Regions from separate parts of the Homo sapiens genome. Here region 2 is linked to region 1. The links come from fine-mapping of genetic effects on gene expression. Tissue or cell type: thyroid. Region 1 holds a variant in brackets; the other region holds the start of a gene. All regions are shown on one strand. Distances are from middle to middle.

Evidence for each region. PIP is the estimated chance that this variant, and not a neighbour inherited with it, causes the effect. A credible set is the group of variants that fine-mapping cannot tell apart.
Region 2: PCDHAC1 starts here. The variant in region 1 is the best candidate, but not a certain one, in a credible set for the expression of PCDHAC1 in thyroid (GTEx, PIP 0.62).

The regions. Positions count from the first base shown.
Region 1 is chr5:140,962,399-140,965,084 of GRCh38, forward strand. The region is part of intron 1 of PCDHA1 (protocadherin alpha 1); the gene reads left to right. The region is part of intron 1 of PCDHA2 (protocadherin alpha 2); the gene reads left to right. All of the region lies in intron 1 of PCDHA3 (protocadherin alpha 3), which reads left to right. All of the region lies in intron 1 of PCDHA4 (protocadherin alpha 4), which reads left to right. It also overlaps PCDHA5, PCDHA6, PCDHA7, PCDHA8, PCDHA9 and PCDHA10, and 5 more genes. Among named protein-coding and RNA genes, the nearest start is that of PCDHAC2, 2.7 kb to the right of the region's middle. The variant A/G (reference allele first, on the strand shown) is at 1,615.
Region 2 is chr5:140,924,909-140,927,594 of GRCh38, forward strand. It overlaps PCDHAC1 (protocadherin alpha subfamily C, 1), which reads left to right and starts at 1,391. Exons shown (of 4, transcript NM_018898.5): 1 at 1,391-2,686. The coding sequence starts at 1,985. All of the region lies in intron 1 of PCDHA1 (protocadherin alpha 1), which reads left to right. All of the region lies in intron 1 of PCDHA2 (protocadherin alpha 2), which reads left to right. All of the region lies in intron 1 of PCDHA3 (protocadherin alpha 3), which reads left to right. It also overlaps PCDHA4, PCDHA5, PCDHA6, PCDHA7, PCDHA8 and PCDHA9, and 5 more genes. RefSeq lists an enhancer at 1,974-2,531.

The sequences.
Region 1 (2,686 bases):
CCAAACCTGTCTCTCCCTTTTTATTGTTACTTATCCAAAGATGGCTTGAATCTCTTATGGCTTGAATCTCTTTGTTTATTCTAAGCAATTTTCAGACACCTCAGCCAACTATCAATAATATATTAGTTTTTTAGAACTAAAAATGTAGAGGATCTCCCCCTAAAAGCCAATTGTTAATGCCAAATATTTGACTGATATATTTCTTCTGGAGGAAGGGAGATGTGAAAAAATTTAGCCATCAAGTTATGTGAAAACTTTTTCATCTTCCCATCCACTGGATGTTTTATCTGTAAATAATGCTATAATCATATTGGAAAGTATTTTCCTTCTGGGGATGCATGAAGATCAGGAATCCTATTCGTTTTTAACAAGATGGAATTTTTAAAAACTACTTTGGACAACTCTAAACATCAGAGATGACCATTTGTCTCTTTTTTATTATATAACTTGTGCTCGGTTTGTAGAGCAACATAAATACATGAATTAAAAAATGAAAACTAGCTCCTTCCCTATTTGACAGATACTTCTCAACCTCCTCTCCATAAGATATGCTCTATCCCTATATAGGAAATTTTTCTGTAGCAGCTTGAGTTTACTAAAAATAAGATCTGAAGAAAATGAAGCAATTAACATTTATTGAGAGTCTATAAGGGTTTCTACATTGTGAAGGAGACAGAAATATAAGACATGGCTCCTGCTTTCAGGTTGCTTATAATTAAAGAGATAATATTAAATTATTTGGATGAATTTAAAAATGACACATGCCATCTTACAGATATGCTGTAGACTGTGAAAATGAAAAAAAAAACCTCGTGTTTAGAGTAGACACTGTTTGATGGATTAGGTAGGTTTTCATCTGGACTTTGAAATGTATGTAAGATTTTATAAGGAGGAGAGAAAATAAGAAGCTGTTTGTATTAGAATTACACAGATAAATTTGTAAATTTAGTTCTTTTCAAAGAACATTAATTGAGCACCTCTGTGCCAAGCTCCCTACTGGATGCTGTAGATTACAGCATGTTTAGGAACTAACTTCATACTCTGTTGCTAAAGTATTTCTGTGTTTTCTAAAAAGGTAAATCTCTTGTGAGGAAACAAATCTCTTGAAGGGGTTCTCATAACAGAAGTCCCATTTACTTCATGATATAAAAAGGGGCTGTTTTCTGGTTTTGTTCTCAAAATGTAGGATATAGTTCTAGACGTAATTGGGAAAGCTTAACTTTGTTGCATACGCATCTTCCCTATCATGGTTGATTTCCTATATGGCATAGTTAAATGTGTTTATCCGTGTTTGATATCTAAAGGGCCATGCTACATATAGACTGCCAACTAAGGTTTTATCTGATGATAATAAATTGTTGTATTTCATGACGACAGCAACAACAACAATAATGTACTTAACTAGTCACTGTGCAAATTGCTTTACATACATTTTCTCATGTAATCATAATAATAACCGTATGAGTTTTGCTTACTATTGTTTTCCTTAATTAAAATGAGTAAAGTGAAGCTTAGGCTAAGTAACATGTCCATAGCCAAACAGTTAGTCACTGGCAGGAGTGTGACTGACTCCAAAGTCTATATTCCTAATTACTGTGTTCTACTTTTTAATAG[A/G]GAGCTCTTGAAGGTCCAAGGAAAGGAATGCATAATGGTGTGGTCAAGGCATTAGTGTTAATATTTGTAGAAAGGGTAATTAACAACAGTCTGAGCAATCACATTCTAACAACTAGTAAGGTTGGCAGGAGCCTCAGTATAATGGTGTGAGGAACGAAATCATTATAGTGCCAAATAGAGTATACCATCTCTTTAGTACAATGTCTTTCAAAATGAGGCTGATTGTGTTGGCTTTATATTTGACTCCTTAATAATTAAGGCAGTAAATTCTAGCTGGAGCTAAATACCTACAAGGCCTAAAACAGCATAATGGACAACCTGGCAGGTGTCCTTGCTGGAAGATGACAAGAGTGCTGAAAGGAGAGTCCTGGTTTTTCTCCCAAGACATGACATTTGGGGGCTTCCATTAAAAAATTACCAAGCCTCTGCCACTGTAATCTCTTCCTTAAGTGCCTATGATTTTTTCACAGTCACAGGTCTATGCCTGGTCAATACCCAGTGGCCAGGTCTCTGAGCTGCGTGCAGAGATGGCAGCGACTTGGAGGGCTGGGAGGAGATAAGGGGAGGAAAGATCACTTTTCATGACAACTTACAACTTGATTCCACTTATAAGCCATTTATTTTCAGAAACAAGTAATGGGTGAGGACACAGGCCAGGTCCACAATTTGTGCACTTGAGAGATTAAGGCCTCCGAGATCAAATTACCACAGCAAACTGAGACAGAATTATTGTAGGGATGTTTGGGGAGGATGCAGAGAGAAGAGGAAGAAGCCAGAGACCCAAGAAAGGAGACAGGAATAGATTTTGATGAAAATTGCTTCCTACTCTGTACCCTTGAGGAAACAAAGAGGACAAATAAGAAGCAGCAGTGATAGGAGGCTGGGCGCTTCTCTGGAATAACACTGGCTAGGTAGTGGAGCATTGATAGTGAGTGTGCTTGGTTGGTGGAACGAAGGGATGTGCTAGTTCAGGCCTTTGAATTCTGGGTGTCAGGATCACAACCTTGGCTCCTTTAACTGTCCGCTCTAGGAGGGAAGCATGCCAAATGTCAGGTCTCACTCTGACTTTGTT
Region 2 (2,686 bases), 37 kb before region 1:
AATAAAATAAAATAAAATAAAATAAAATAAAAAGTTAAAAAAAAAATGCAAGGTGAGTGCAGTGGCTCATGTCTGTAATCCTAGCACTTTAGGAGGCTGAGATAAGATGGGAGGATCGCTTGAGCCCAGAAGTTTGAGACCAGACTGGGCAACAAAGCAACACGCTCATCTGGAAAGGAAGGAAGGAAGGAAGGAAGGAGGGAAGGAAGGAAGGAAAAAAAATTTCAAACATACACAAAAGTTGAGAGAATTGTGTAATTGACCCCAATGTACCATCACCCAGCTTCAATAATTATCGATACTTTTAGGCAGGTTTCTACCAGAAAATATGTCCTGGAAACTTTAATTCTTGATCTGTGTTCAGATTTTGCCTTTCAAATGTTTCATTATTGGGGCTTTGGACATATTGCACCTGTATTAAAAGAAGGATTTGAGTGAGGAATTTAGTGCTTCATAGTCAATAGTCAATGAGTCTCCTTTTGGCTCGCCTCCTTCTTAGGGAAAGGAACTGGTTGTAGGGTGTTAGGCAGAATTTGGGTGTATCTGTTGTGGCTCAGAGATGTTTCTCATAGAACTGATCACTGTCCCAATATCCACGCAAAAGACCAAATTAAAAGCGAGGAGAAATACCTAATGTAAATGACAAGTTAATGGGTGCAGCACACCAACATGGCGCATGTATACATATGTAACAAACCTGCACGTTGTGCACATGTACCCTAGAACTTAAAGTATAATAATAATAATAATAATAATAATAATAATAATAAAGCGAGGGTGGGTATCTAGCCTATTCTTATCCTGCCTCATGGTGTTTTCTAAATATTTACAGAAAGAAAATTTACAGAGTAGTTTCCTGGTCAAACTCTAATGAGTATCTCAGTACTTTCCCCTCCACTTCTCACGTCTTCTTTGGGGACGGGTCGTCAAGTCTTTGAGTTTCTAGTTATTGCTATTGACTGGTTTATAACCTCCTCTTTCACCCAGATCGTCAAGGGCCGTTTGCAAAGCACTCCCAAGTAGAGCCTCTTGGAGAAGGAGAAACTGCTATCACGCAAAAAAAAAGCCTTGAGCTCGCTGGCTCCGCTGCCTCGAAAAGCCAGAGTCCGGAGGCAGTTTGATGCGGACACTATTCCCCAACCTTCTTCCCCTCCTTGTCGTCTCTATTGCCCTCTTGGCAGCTCCTGGGATACAAGAGGGTGCAGGACAGACTTCAACCCGCAGCAGGATCCAGCGCGGAAAGCTCTGCAGCAGGATCCAGCGCGGAAAGCCCCCCGCAGCACTTCTTTCGGGGGGCTCCTGTTTCCTTAAGCCTAGAAGGTGTGGTCGCTCACGTTCACCGTCCCGCCTCTCGCCGCCTCCGCTCGGCAGCTCCACGCTGAGTCCCGCCCTCTCCGCCGGAGAGGTGCGCCGGGGTCAGAGCGCCGGGACCCGACGCGCGGCTCCCAAAGGGCGGCAGGAAGAGCCCAGCTGGGCTCAGCCACAGTTATCAGCAATCTGCGGGCAGAGGATGTGGAGGTTAAGATCTGGGCAGCCTCAGGGCGTTGTCCTAGAAAACACCGTTTAAGGAGAGAAGTGTTAGTGTCTCGGGGCGTCTCCCAGGCTCCGCCCTGCGCCCGCAGCCAGCGTGGTGGTCGAGACCCCAGCCCGCTGCTACTGGAGACAGCACCTCTCGCGCCCGGGCGGGCGGCCTCGTCTCTGCACCCCTAGGCGGCGCTGCGCTCCTCAACACCCGGCCGGCTCCGCTTTCCCAGACGGCTGCCCAGCCTCCAGCCTAGCAAGCCCGGCTCCCAGCTGGCCAGCCCCGGCAATGCCGGCGTTCGGGAGGCGCAACGTCGGCGGTCGCTGAGTATCCAGCCCGCAGCAGTGACGGCCGGCAGGAGCGTGCTCTTCCCCGCGGCTCGTGCTCTCCAGGAGTCCGGAGCATGGTCCTGGGTCACCGTTGGTGTAGCGTGTTGGTGGAACGTGGACGCCTAGAGGGAGGATGGTGGGCTGTGGGGTGGCAGTTTTATGTTTGTGGGTTTCCTGCGGCGCTGCAGCGGGACAGCTCGAGTACTCAGTGCCGGAGGAGACGGAGCGGGGCGTAGCCGTAGGCAATCTCTCCGCGGACTTGAGGCTGCCAGCGGCCGCTATGTCCTCGCGGAACTTTCGCTTCCTTTCCAGCCACCGCGAGCTCTACTTCGGGGTGGATCTACCCAGCGGCAATTTGGTGGTCAGAGAGCCGGCGGACCGCGAACAGCTGTGCAGGGCCAAAGCTGCCTGCGTCTTGACCTACGACCTGGTGCTCGAGGACCCGCTGGAGCTGCACAAGATTCGGATTCACGTCCTGGACACCAATGACAACTCACCTCTCTTTCCTGCCGGCGACGTGCAGCTGCACATCCCCGAGTTCCTGACGCCCGGAGCCCGCTTTACTCTCCCGAATGCCCAAGATGACGACGAGGGAAGCAATGGGATACTAAGCTACAGCCTAAGCCCCAGTCAGCACTTTCGCCTGGACATGGGATCGCGGGTTGACGGCAGCGAATACCCGGAGTTGGTGTTGGAGAAAGCACTGGATCGCGAACAGCGCGCCACCCACCTGCTGGTGCTTACAGCTCGGGACGGCGGGCTACCTGCCCGCTCAGGAGACGCACAAGTCACCATCATTGTGGTGGACACAAATGACAACGCGCCTGTATTTGAG